3 separate regions of the Homo sapiens genome follow, and all the other regions are linked to region 2. Evidence: fine-mapped expression QTL. A gene starts in region 2. Each other region holds a variant in brackets. All regions are shown on one strand. Distances are from middle to middle.

Evidence for each region.
Region 1: its variant is fine-mapped to the expression of LINC00853 in whole blood (INTERVAL, PIP above 0.99).
Region 3: its variant is fine-mapped to the expression of LINC00853 in whole blood (INTERVAL, PIP above 0.99).

Annotation. Positions count from the first base shown.
Region 1 is chr1:47,591,567-47,595,804 of GRCh38, reverse strand. No RefSeq gene overlaps it. Among named protein-coding and RNA genes, the nearest start is that of LINC01738, 95 kb to the left of the region's middle. The variant T/GT (reference allele first, on the strand shown) is at 2,083.
Region 2 is chr1:47,177,257-47,181,494 of GRCh38, reverse strand. LINC00853 (long intergenic non-protein coding RNA 853) reads right to left here and starts at 2,245. Exons shown (of 2, transcript NR_047498.1): 1 at 2,057-2,245; 2 at 1,156-1,627. It overlaps CYP4A22-AS1 (CYP4A22 antisense RNA 1), which reads left to right and starts at 1,872. Exons shown (of 6, transcript NR_199717.1): 1 at 1,872-2,305; 2 at 3,046-3,370. RefSeq lists a cis regulatory region at 167-184 and enhancers at 103-247, 1,873-2,374.
Region 3 is chr1:47,005,124-47,009,361 of GRCh38, reverse strand. It overlaps a transcript of CYP4X1 not described here. Among named protein-coding and RNA genes, the nearest start is that of CYP4X1, 16 kb to the left of the region's middle. The variant G/T (reference allele first, on the strand shown) is at 2,019.

The sequences.
Region 1 (4,238 bases), 410 kb before region 2:
AGAAATGCAAATTCTTGAACCCCCATCCCAGACCTACTGAATCAAAATTTCCTAGGTGGAGTACAGCAATCTGTTTTCACAAGCCCTCCAGGTGATGCACACTAAAGTTTAAGAAGCACTGTTCTATATTACCTCCTATTATATTATCTCTATTTATCATCATTTTCCAGAAGCAGCAGCTGAGGCTATAGCAGGTTAAGGAACTTGCCCAAGGTTTTAAAGCAAGGAAGCAATGAAAGCAAAATTCAAACATGGGTGTAGCTGACTCTTCCCTCGCCCATCTGGGGGTGTTGAGTTCCTTGGCCTAAAGGAGAGCTACTGGAAGCTGGAAACCCCTGCTTGTGGAGGGGCTTCCTGTCTAAGGTGGTCTTAGTCCATTTTACATTCCTATAAAGGAATACTTGAAGCTTGATAATTTATAAAGTAAAGAGGTTTGCTTGGCTTACAGTTCTGCAGGCTATTCAAGAAGTATGGCACCGGCACCTGCTTCTGGTGAGGGCTGAGGAAGCTTCCAATCATGGCAGAAGGTGAAGGGGGAGCAGGTGTGTCACATAGAAAGAGATAGAGCAAGAAAGTGGGGCGGGGGTGCCAGGCTCTTTTAAACAACCAGCTCTCCAGTGAACTAACAGTAATGCACTCATTACTTCAGGGACAGCAACAAGCCATTCATGAGGGACTCACCTCCATGACCCAAACACCTCCCATTAGGCCCCACCACCAACACTGGGGATCAAATTTCAACATGAGATTTGGAGGGGACAAATACCCAAACTATATCAGGTGGCAAACCAGTGGCCTCAGCCCCAGCTTATGACTTGAAGTTTAAACTCTAAGGCTCAACCCAGGAGTTCTACTGTGGATGAGTTGGTAAGTGATGAGGTCTGGTGGGGACACATGCTGTGGAGAGAAGAGAGGGCCAGAGCCAGCTCTTGGAGAGTACCCACTTCGGCTCCTGCCAGCTGCCCTCGGCAGTACCTGCCCACATGCTCCCCTCCCTGGAAGACCACCGCACCTGCCAGATGCCAAGGATGAACCTGGTCTAACCCCCCAGACTCGAGCTACCCAAGTATATGGCTGGTCTTACTCTTCTCTGACCCCATTGCCCAGCTGAGGGCCTGGCTGATTGTCTGTGAAGCTGCATGGTCAAGTGAAGCAAGGAATAAACCACTCCTTTCTGGCAGATTGACTAGGAAAGGCACCAGGCAAGGCCTTGCAGACCTTAAGTTGCATAAATATGTGGGCAAGCAGGAGGTTGTGGGAAATGTGTTCCTGGTGACAGCTACAGACTGAGGAAAAGCATGGCAGTAGGAGAACGTGGAGTGTGTTGTTCCAGCCTCTCTCTAGTGCTTTTGAGGTAAGAGCATGAAAGGTGGATTTGGAAGCCATCATAGAAGGCCTGTACTGTCAATAGAGGGATTTGGGTTATTCTATAGGTACTAGGGAGCCATGGAAGGCATTAGAACAGGAGAGTGATGGGATCATATGGAGTATTGGGCTGTAGAGGGATTGAGCAGAACCCCTGTGCCCTGAAGCCTATTCTGCGCCAAGCACTGCACCTACTGCTTCCTGAGTACACCCTCATCTTAGAACTGAGGCTCAAGGTGTCTGCTCAAGGGAGCACAGCTAGTAAGCAGCAAAGCAGAATTTGCACCAAGATCTGTATGACTCCAGAGCGCAGGCCCTGGCTCCTCCACTACTGCTCAATCTCTGTCTGAGCTGTCTCCAGGGTTTGACTCCTGGGTGGGAGCGGGGCTTGGAGGTTTCCTGCCTCTGCCTAGAGTATAAAGTCAGTGCTGGGACCCTGGACCTTCATGGGGACTCCCATGGGGTAAGCCTGGGGCTTAGGGGTGCAGGCAGGTGGAAAAGATGCCCAGGAGAGGAGGGTGTGGGCCTGAAGGGCAGAGTTTGGCTGGGAGGCAAAGCCTGTCCCCAAAGCCCTTGCCAGGACTCCTGACCTGAGCTCTGAACCCTGGGCTTGGAGGGCCACCTCTCTGCATGGGAGTGCAACGGGGTTGGCGGGGTTGGCGGGCCTGGAGCTGGGGGCCGAGGGGCGGGGTCGGGGTGGGGGAATGGGGTGGGGGG[T/GT]GTCCAGGGCAGCAAGCTCTAGAAGGCAAAGCGTGGGATCGGGTGAACCCAGTATCCCCCTTTCAGATGGACCAGAGACCTCCAAAATGTCTTTGATTCCACGAGATCTTAGAAACAGGGAGAGAAAACGAGAGACAGACTGAGCCCCACCAAGACAGAGAGGACGAGAGAGAGCCCCGCGGGGCGGGGGGAGACAGAGAGAGGTCCCGCGCCCCGTGGGCGCTCCAGGCCCGCGCAGCCTTGCTCGCTCTGCACGCAGCCACCGCGGTCCAGCCAGGGCGGCAAACTGGAAACAGCTGCGGAGGTTTTGGGTTTCCGCCCGGCCTCCCCCTAGCCCCTGGCTCTGGCCCACCCGAGCAGTTCCCCCTTAATCCCGCTCTCTCGGGAAGCTGTGCTGTGAAAATCCTCCGCCCTGCTCTGAGAGGTCAGCCCCGGGCTGGCGGCGGCGGGCCGCGGAGCAGGAGGTGCGGGCCCCGGCGCTGCAGACCCTGCGGAGACGGCCCCCTCTACTGCAGGCGCCGCCTCATCTAATAAGCGGGGCTGATAACGCCTTCCGCGCAAGACCGCTGGGAGACCTTCCCTGGCACCTGGCAGACGCGCGCAGAACCTTCACCAGTCCGGTTTTGCCAGGATGCTCCACTCACTGAGCGCCTTTTTCTAATTGTTCTAATTCGCACGAACAAGTCCTAAGGGCTAGTGGCAGCCCTGCCTCCCCTTCCCCCTCTCTCTCCCAGAGCCTGGGGATGAAGTCTGTGCCCAGCCAGTTACCTGGGGCATAGACTCAGTAGCCCCAGGGGATCAGTCCCCAGTCCAGTTCCTCTAGCACTTCCTGATGCCCTCCCCGTGCGCCAGCCCTTCACTGAATCCCACTCAGCACCTGCGCTCAGGAGCTGGGAGATAAAATTACTTTCAATGGGTCACAGGACTTTGCCTCTGAAGCTGGGAGATCAGACAGGCCTCATCGTTCCCTTTGATCTTGAGAGGGCATCCAGGCTCATCCATTCGGCACCCAGAGTGGGCAAGGGGCTTACTCAAGATCACCAGCAGGTCTGCGACAGGCCCACGACTCCTGAGTTCCAGTCCAGGTTTTGTTTCATTTTATTTTGAGCACTGTGCCAGCTCCAAAAACTGCTCACCTGGCAAGGTTTTCCTAGCCTCTTTGCCCCAGTCCTGGGCTCAGCTACAATAGGGAGCACACAGGTCAGGGCAGCAGGTGCAGCAGGCAGAGGCCTTGGCGGGGAGGCAGCTACAGCACTGGCCTGTTCAGCCCCGACGGCATTGCAGGCGCTGCAGGTGAGCTGTAGCTGGGCAGCAGGATCTCCGAGGGCCTCTGCGGCCCAGATGCTCGATCCCCTGAAAAGGGCTTCTGGGTTCTGAGCTGGCCCCTCACTGCCAGCTCTCAGTGCCCCTCCTTCCTGCCGCCCACTTCAAAGGAAGAAAACCCTTGGGAAGACTTGGAGTCACCGGGAAGCAGGTGTGCTCCACCAGGCCTCCCTGCCTCTACATGCTGCTGGCTGTGCACACACAACACAGAATCTCACGCACACACACCATGCAGTTACACACGCAAACACACTTTCACCTCACAGACCCACACGCACATTACACACACAACACAGTTACACACGCACACTCACCTTCACCTCAGACTCACACACACTACACACACAACACAGTTATGCACACTCACCTTCATCTCAGACTCTCTCACACACTACACACACAACACACAGTTACACACGCACACTCACCTTCATCTCATAGACACACACACTACACACACACAACACACAGTTGTGCACACTCACCTTCATCTCATAGACTCACACACTACACAGAGTGACACATGCACCTCACCTTCTCATAGACTCACACACACAACACAGTTACACACGCACATGCGCACTCACCTTCACCTCACAGACACACACAACACGCACAACACAGTTACACACGCACACTCACCTTCATCTCATAGACTCATACACAACACACAGTTACACACGCACACTCACCTTCACCTCATAGACACACACAACACAGTTACACACGCACACTCACCATCTCATAGACACACACTACACACACACAACAGTTACACATGCACACTCACCTTCACCTCAGATTCACACACACACTACACACACACAACAGTT
Region 2 (4,238 bases):
TGGCCCCAGAACTGCTGAGACCCCCAATCCTTATCGCTCATTCCCACCTGCCAGCCTGGCCAGATCGGGGAGGGAAAGGAGGCTGGGCCCGGGCCAGGGTGGCGCTTAATGACCCTCCGGGGGCCTAATCTCAGACTGGCAGCCACGGAGTGGCTCAGGCGCGCTCCTGGAGAAGGCTGATAACGCACCAGCTGGGCCCCCACCATCTATCGCTGCACAGCCAGTCCCAGGGGCAGCCTCCCAGGGCCTGGGGAGGGGGAGCCTCTGGACTAGGGCGGGGCTGGAGGCGAGCTCTCCACCCCCAGCCCTGAGGGAGGGGATCCTGAGCTTCGTGATTGGCAGACAAGGGAGAGACCCAGCCTGCAGGAGGGGTGGGCTGGGCCTGGTGGGAACCTCCAGACACCTGTGCTCCTTCTCTCTTTCCTGCTCTCTTCCCAACCTTTTCTCCCCACGTAGGACCTCTCCTGCCCAGGCCTGTCTCCTCTTTGTCTCTCCCAGCCTCCATCCATCTCTGTCTCCCTGTTTCTCAGTCTCTCCACCTCTGTTTTTGTCTCATCCTCTGCCTCTCTCTCTCCTGTTTGCCTTTCTCCTCCTCCACCTGAGCTCAGTGCCCACCTCCTCTTTCTCTCTTGCATCCCTTTTCAGTTTCCAGCTGGTTCTCTTGGTTGTCCCCTTCCCAGCTGTCCCCTGCCTCCTAAGCTTCCTTGATGTCAACCCTTGGCCGGGCAGTTCCCACGATCTCATTGGTCTCACTTCTGTGTGTGGTATCATCTCTCTGTGGTCCCTTCCACCAGCTATCTGCCAGGATTGCAGGCTGCCTCAAGCCCTGGCTCTCAGCCCAGAATGTCCTCTTACTGTTGAGGACATTTTTGCTCTTCCTGGAACAGGGCTTGCACCTTGTTTTCCCCTCTCCCACCTAAAACATGTAAGTTTCATAGGGTTACATTATAGGTTATACCCAAACTCAGGCAGAAAAGAAAAGCCTCCACCCAGCAACTGCACAGTTGAGGGAAGACTGCAGCACTGCTTACTTCATTTAGACTTGAAGAGGAACTTCCAGCCAGGAGTTGGCTTTGAAAACAGGCTGTGGAGTTCCGTCTCCAGAGTGCCAGGTGGTCAAGGGGAGTTTCAAGATTACTGCCGTCATACTCAGAGTGACACATGCAGAAATACTATCTGTTTATTGTGCTTCAAGGATCCATTAGATCAGGACTATTGCTGGGCAAAGCCTCTTCCCGCAGCCTAGGGGTAGTAAAGGTGGGGGTAGAGGTGCTGGGGCTGGGGCCAGAATCACACACAGTCTGCTCTGGCCTCTACCCACCTTCACAGGGAAGTCAGGTGGCTGAAGCCAGCAGAACTTGCTCTGGGACCAGGGTGGAGGCACCTGCCTCCCATCCAGACCTGGCTGGAGGGTCTTGACTCCCTAGCTTGGCTCTCCTCCCAGGGTTTTTTTTTTTTTTTTTTTTTGTCCCTGGCAGTGCAGGGGTGGCCAAAAGCTTGAGCTTGGGAATCATGCCGATTGGTTCAAATTCCAGCCTGCTCCTCGATGCTTGTGGGATCGCCTAGCCTTTCAGATCTTCCATTCCTTTGCCGGTAAAATTGGCTCTATAGTACATTCCTTGCAGGGCTGCTGGGAGGAAACAGAGATGACATCCGTGTTATTATTGCTCCTGAGACTTGCCAGAAAGCCCTCCATGATCAGCGTAGATGCCATTTCTTCCCAGATGCTCCTTTCCCCACTCCTGGGTTCAGCACTTCCTCCGGGCAACTTCAGCCCCTGCTCCTCCCTCTCTTTGCACCCGCCCCACCTGCCCCACTCACTCCACCCACCCCAGGGTGCTGTCTACTTGTCTGCATCCTGCTCCTGCCCTGGGTCTGGGAGCTCCTCAAGGGCAGGAATGGAGTGACTTCCCTCTCTGTGCACCCAGGACAGGGCTGGACAGGAGAAGGGAAGCCCAAGGAGTGGTGAAGAGCCCCGAAGGAAGGGACTAAACTCCAGCCATCTGTCCCGCGGTGTCTGTTCATACTCCTCCTCCGTGCACGGGCTCAGACATACATATGCGCATATGCTCTGTCTCTTTCTGGTTGAAGGTCCTGGGAGCCCTCCGGAACTCTGCTGCCTGGCAGTCCTTCAGTTTCGGGAGCTTTTCTGTCTGCCCGTGGCCTCGGCTGCCACCTGGTGGCTGCACGCTCCAAAGGAAGCGTAGATTGATGAGAGCCTCGGAAGTTGAGCTTCAGGCGCGGCTCTTCCCCGTCACACTGGGACCGGACGCATTTCCATGGCGTGGTCCCAGGAACCTCTCAGGTCATGCCAGCAACTGGGACTTCCTGTGGAATGCAAGGGCAGTGGGGCCTCCGCGAGAGAGAGAGAGAGAGAGAGAGAGAGAAGAGAGAGATATTAAGGATGAATCCCAGTGTCTGCTCTGAGCAAATTGGAAGACGATGGCATCAGGGGCACTGCTCTGGGCTATATAGACTGTGCCTCCACTAAAGGGTCCCTGAGACCAGGTGTGGGCCCGTATCCCTGGAGGGAGAGGTAACTTCCTCTGATTCGAAGGCATCATATAGGCTAGTGAATGGCACTGAGAATGGCAGATGCCAGGGACAAGCAGGAGCATGTGTGGGATGAGGATGCGGCGTGGATGTGTGACGTTTCAGAGCCTGCAACACATCCGTAGGGAAGTCCTGGAGGAGCAGTTGGGTGCATGGTGGAGTTCTGAAACAGCTGGGCAGTCGGCACTTGAGCCAGAGATTCTGCTTTCGACCTGGATGCCCATTGAGAGGTTAAGAGCTCAGGTCTGGGTCAGGCAGCTTGGAAGCAGCACAGCTTGGACACTTGGTAGCCTGGGACTGTGGTTAAATCAACGTGACTCTCGGAGCTCCAGTTCACTGTAAATTAGGGCAGTAAATGATGTCTACATGATAAGTGGTGTTATGAATGTTAAACATTCACATGAAATACATAGAATAGTGCTTAGCATACAGTACACAATAACTGTTAGCTATTTGGAAAATTACTATTGTTATTATGATTATTTATTACAGAGTGAACTGAATTGGATGCAAGATCACGGTGCGTCAGAGCTAGCAAGATCCTTAGGATCATTTAGCCTGGTTTACTAATATTACACTATGGAATTTAAGCCCAAGGAATGGAGAGTACCCGACGAGCGTTATGTAAGGAGTCGAGTGAGAAGTAAGCTGGATGCTCTGCTTGGCTGGCAGGTACAGAATGTGCCAGACCCATCTGTACCAGCCTGGATCTCTTGAGGCATCAGCACAATGGACCTGGCCACACCAGTTTATTCCACACCGCTGAGGCTGGTACAGTTCTGGACATGGACTTTGTAAATAAATAACTGGGCCTTTGGTCAGTTCTAGCTGTGAGCTTGGAGGTATGGGGTGGGATGGTGAGGACAGGTGGGGGCAAAGTGAGGAAAGGGGCAGGGAGGAGAGGGGAGAGAGAAAAAGGGGAATGAGACAGGCTGAGCTAGTGAGCTGGAATTGGAGGTTGGGAACAGGCTTTCCTTGATGGTGGTGGTGCTGTTTTCTTTTTAATTTTAATTTAATTTTATTTTAAGTTCCAGGCTACATGTGCAGGATGTACAGGTTTGTTACATAGGTAAAAACATGGTGGTTTGCTGCAACTGTCAACCCATCACCTAGATATTAAGCCCAGCATGCATTAGCTATTTATCCTGATGCTCTCCCCACCCCTGCCCCAACAGGCCCCACTGTATGTTGTTCCCCTCTTTTTTGTTCACTTAAAAGATCCCACTTTTAAGTGAGAGTATGCAGTGTTTGGTTTTCTGTTCCTGTGTTACTTTGCTGAGGATAATGGCCTCCAGCTCCATCCATGTCCCTGCAAAGTACATGATCTCATTCCTTTTTATGTCTGCATAGTATTCCATGGTATATATGTACCATATTTTCCTTATCTAGTCTATCATTTATGGGCATTTGGGTTGATTCCATGTCTTTGCTACTGTGAATAGTGCTGCAATGAACATATGCTTGCATGTATCATTATTTTTTTATTTTTTTTGAGATGGAGTCTTACTCCCTCACCCAGGCTGGAGTGCAATGGTGCAATCTCTGCTCACTGCAACCTCCTCCTCCCGGGTTCAAGCAATTCTCGTGCCTCAGCCTCCCGAGTAGCTGGGACTACAGGTGCCTGCCACCACACCCGGCTAATTTTTTTGTTTTTTTGTATTTTTAGTAGAGACGGGGTTTTACCA
Region 3 (4,238 bases), 170 kb after region 2:
TTGGTTTCAAAGAACATCTTTATTTCTGCCTTCATTTCTTTATGTACCAGGTAGTCATTCAGGAGCAGGTTGTTCAGTTTCCATGTAGTTGAGCGGTTTTGAGTGAGTTTCTTAATCCTGAGTTCTAGTTTGATTGCACTGTGGTCTGAGAGACAGTTTGTTATAATTTCTGTTCTTTTTGAGGAGTGCTTTACTGCCAACTATGTGGTCAATTTTGGAATAGGTGTGGTGTGGTGCTGAAAAGAATGTATATTCTGTTGATCTTGGGTGGAGAGTTCTGTAGATGTCTATTAGATCCACTTGGTGCAGAGCTGAGTTCAATTCCTGGATATCCTTGTTAACTTTCTGTTTCGTTGATCTGTCTAATGTTCACAGTGGGGTGTTAAAGTCTCCCATTATTGTGTGGGAGTCTAAGTCTCTTTGTAGGTCTCTAAGGACTTGCTTTATGAATCTGGGTGCTCCTGTATTGAGTGCATATATATTTAGGATAGTTAGCTCTTCTTGTTGTATTGATCCCTTTACCATTATGTAATGGCCTTCTTTGTGTCTTTTGATTTTTGTTGGTTTAAAGTCTGTTTTATCAGAGACTAGGATTGCAACCCCTGCCTTTTTGTTTCCATTTGTTTGGTAGATCTTCCTCCATCCCTTTATTTTGAGCCTATGTGTGTCTCTGCACATGAGATGGGTTTCCTGAATACAGCACACTGATGGGTCTTGACTCTTTATCCAATTTGCCAGTCTGTGTCTTTTAATTGGAGCATTTAGCCCATTTACATTTAAGGTTAATATTGTTATGTGTGAATTTGATCCTGTCATTATGATGTTAGCTGTTTATTTTGCTCATTAGTTGATGCAGTTTTTTCCTGCCCTTGATGGTCTTTACAATGTGGCATGTTTTTGCAGTGGCTGGTACTGGTTGTTCCTTTCCATGTTTAGTGCTTCCTTCAGGAGCTCTTGTAAGGCAGGCCTGCTGGTGACAAAATCTCTCAGCATTTGCTTGTCTGTAAAGTATTTTATTTCTCCTTCACTTATGAAGTTTAGTTTGGCTGGATATGAAATTCTGGGTTGAAAATTCTTTTCTTTAAGAATGTTGAATATTGGCCCCCACTCTCTTCTGGCTTGTAGAGTTTGTGCCGAGAGATCAGCTGTTAGTCTGATGGGCTTCCCTTTGTGGGTAACCCGACCTTTCTCTCTGGCTGCCCTTAACCTTTTTTCCTTCATTGCAACTTTGGTGAATCTGACAATTATGTGTCTTGGAGTTGCTCTTCTCGAGGAGTATCTTTGTGGCATTCTCTGTATTTCCTGAATCTGAATGTTGGCCTGCCTTGCTAGATTGGGGAAGTTCTCCTGGATAATATCCTGAAGAGTGTTTTCCAACTTGGTTCCCTTCTCCCCATCACTTTCAGGTACACCAATCATACATAGATTCAGTCTTTTCACATAGTCCCATATTTCTTGGAGGCTTTGTTCATTTCTTTTTATTCTTTTTTCTCTAAACTTCTCACTTCATTTCATTCATTTGATGTTCCATCACTGATACCCTTTCTTCCAGTTGATCGAATTGGCTACTGAGGCTTGTGCATTCATCACGTAGTTCTCGTGCCATGGTTTTCGGCTCCGTCAGGTCCTTTAAGGACTTCCCTGCATTGGGTTATTCTAGTTAGCCATTCGTCTAATTTTTTTTCAAGGTTTTTAACTTCTTTGCCATGGGTTTGAACTTCCTCCTTTAGCTTGGAGTAGTTTGATCATCTGAAGCCTTCTTCTCTCAACTCGTCAAAGTCATTCTCCGTCCAGCTTTGTTCCATTGCTGGTGAGGAGCTGTGTTCCTTTGGAAGAGGAGAGGCACTCTGATTTTTAGAGTTTCCAGTTTTGCTGCTTTGTTTTTTCCCCATCTTTGTGGTTTTATCTACCTTTGGTCTTTGATCATGGTGACGTACAGATGGGGTTTTGATGTGGATGTCCTTTCTGTTTGTTGGTTTTCCTTCTAACAGTCAGGACCCTCAGCTGCAGGTCTGTTG[G/T]TGTTTGCTGGAGGTCCACTCCAGACCCTGTTTGCCTGGGTATCAGCAGCGGTGGCTGCAGAACAGCGGATGTTGGTGAACAGCAAATGTTGCTGCCGGATCGTTTGCCTGGAAATTTTGTCTCAGAGGAGTACCTGGCCGTGTGAGGTGTCAGTCTGCCCCTACTGGAGGGTGCCTCCCAGTTAGGCTACTCGGGGTTTAGGGACCCACCTGAGGAGGCAGTCTGTCTGTTCTCAGATCTCCAGCTGCGTGCTGGGAGAACTACTACTCTCTTCAAAGCTGTCAGACAGGGACATTTAAGTCTGCAGAGGTTTCTGCTGCCTTTTGTTTGGCTATGCCCTGCCCCAGTGGTGGAGTCTACAGAGGCAGGCAGGTCTCCTTGAGCTGTGGTGGGCTCCACCCAGTTTGAGCTTCCCAGCCGCTTTGTTTACCTACTCAAGCCTCGGCAGTTTTGGGTGCCCTCCCCCAGCCTCGCTGCCGCCTTGCAGTTTGATCTGACTGCTGTGCTAGCAATGAGCGAGGCTCCGTGAGCATAGGACCCTCCAAGCCAGTCGCAGGATATAATCTCCTGGTGTGCCGTTTGCTAAGACCATTGGAAAAGCACAGTATTAGGGTGTGTGTGACCCAATTTTCCAGGTGCCGTCTGTCACCCCTTTCTTTGACTATGAAAGGGAATTCCCTGACCCCTTGCACTTCCTGGGTGACGCGATGACTCACCCTGCTTTGGCTCATGCTCAGTGTGTTGCATCCACTGTCCTGAACCCACTCTCTGACACTCCCCAGTGAGATGAACCCGGTACCTCAGTTGAAAATGCAGAAATCACCCATCTTCTGCATCACTCACACTGGGAGCTGTAGACTGGAGCTGTTCCTATTCGGCCATCTTGGCTCCACCTCTCTTAGATAACTTCTGAATCAGACAAAGTTATTCTTTTTCTCACTAATAACATAACGCTTTCTGGGACATTTTGTATACAGAATTATGTGTCTACTAGAATTCTTATGCTTGGTAACCTAAAACTTTAGTGAAATCCCAAAAAGCAAGAAATCCTGAACTATCAGATGTGGGCACTTATAGATAAGAACAATTCCACAGTTTTTAGAACCATATTTCCTTATATCACAAACCTTTCTTCATTGGAAATGACCCAGATATTAAATGAGGATCAAAAATAATTTTAAGATTTTAATTTACACAAAAAGTTTATGTAAAACATTTACCCCATTCACTGGACTCGATTCTTTCACTTTTAACAGTTTATCTAGATTACTTCTGTAAACTGAGATATTAGACACTATCATTTTAAAGTTAGTGATTCCCTTGTTAACCATGTTTCTAATAGCCAGTGAACATCAGGTGCTCACCTAAACCTAAGTACATGTCTCAAAGTTAAATACATAGGTATTTTTGCCAATAACTCAGGAGATTTAGCTAACATTAAATTACTCTCATTTGTCAAAAAAGGCACACAAGTCAAATCATTTTGTTTTGACTGGGCTTATAGTTTTATAACTTTCTATGCCAAACACTGACATCTCAAAATGTCTAGCAAAGACAAATATAAAATTCAGACAAAATGTATGCTGACAATTCTGAAGGCATTTCTGGTTTTGTTCCACCGATAATTTTAAAGCCAGCTTTTTTAGTAAAGTTATACTTAAGTTACCTGAACTTGAAAATTGCTTACACTTAATCATTTAATATATGACCACTCTTTTACTTATAAGCCAATTTGCTAGTCACAACATATAACAATAAGTGTACATACAAATAAACACATCTAGACTTGTATACACACATATAAATGAAGATCCAATAGCTTGGAATGCTAGCCATGAGATAGCAATAAAGCTCACCGGCTTTACTTTGCCCCAATAGATAATCCAATAAAGACTGTGATCCAAAATTTTGGGTAAAGCAGTCTCCATGGCAGTTTGATTTTTAAAGGCCAAACCCCCAGACTCCAAAGAGCACTGGGGCCAAACATCACCAAAGGAGAGCATCACACATTAACCAAGCCCCCTGCTTGGGACAGCAGCACCTAAGTCTGGATACATGCAACACCATCCCACTTTCCCATTCAATGGTAAACTCTAGATTCCAAGCAATATTGAGGCCAAACAGTATTGCAACTCCAAGAGAAAATTCTAAGGACTGCTTAGTACTAGACCTCAGAACCTCTTCTGAGTGCATCCCCTTTGGAGAGGTTGAGGTCCAGA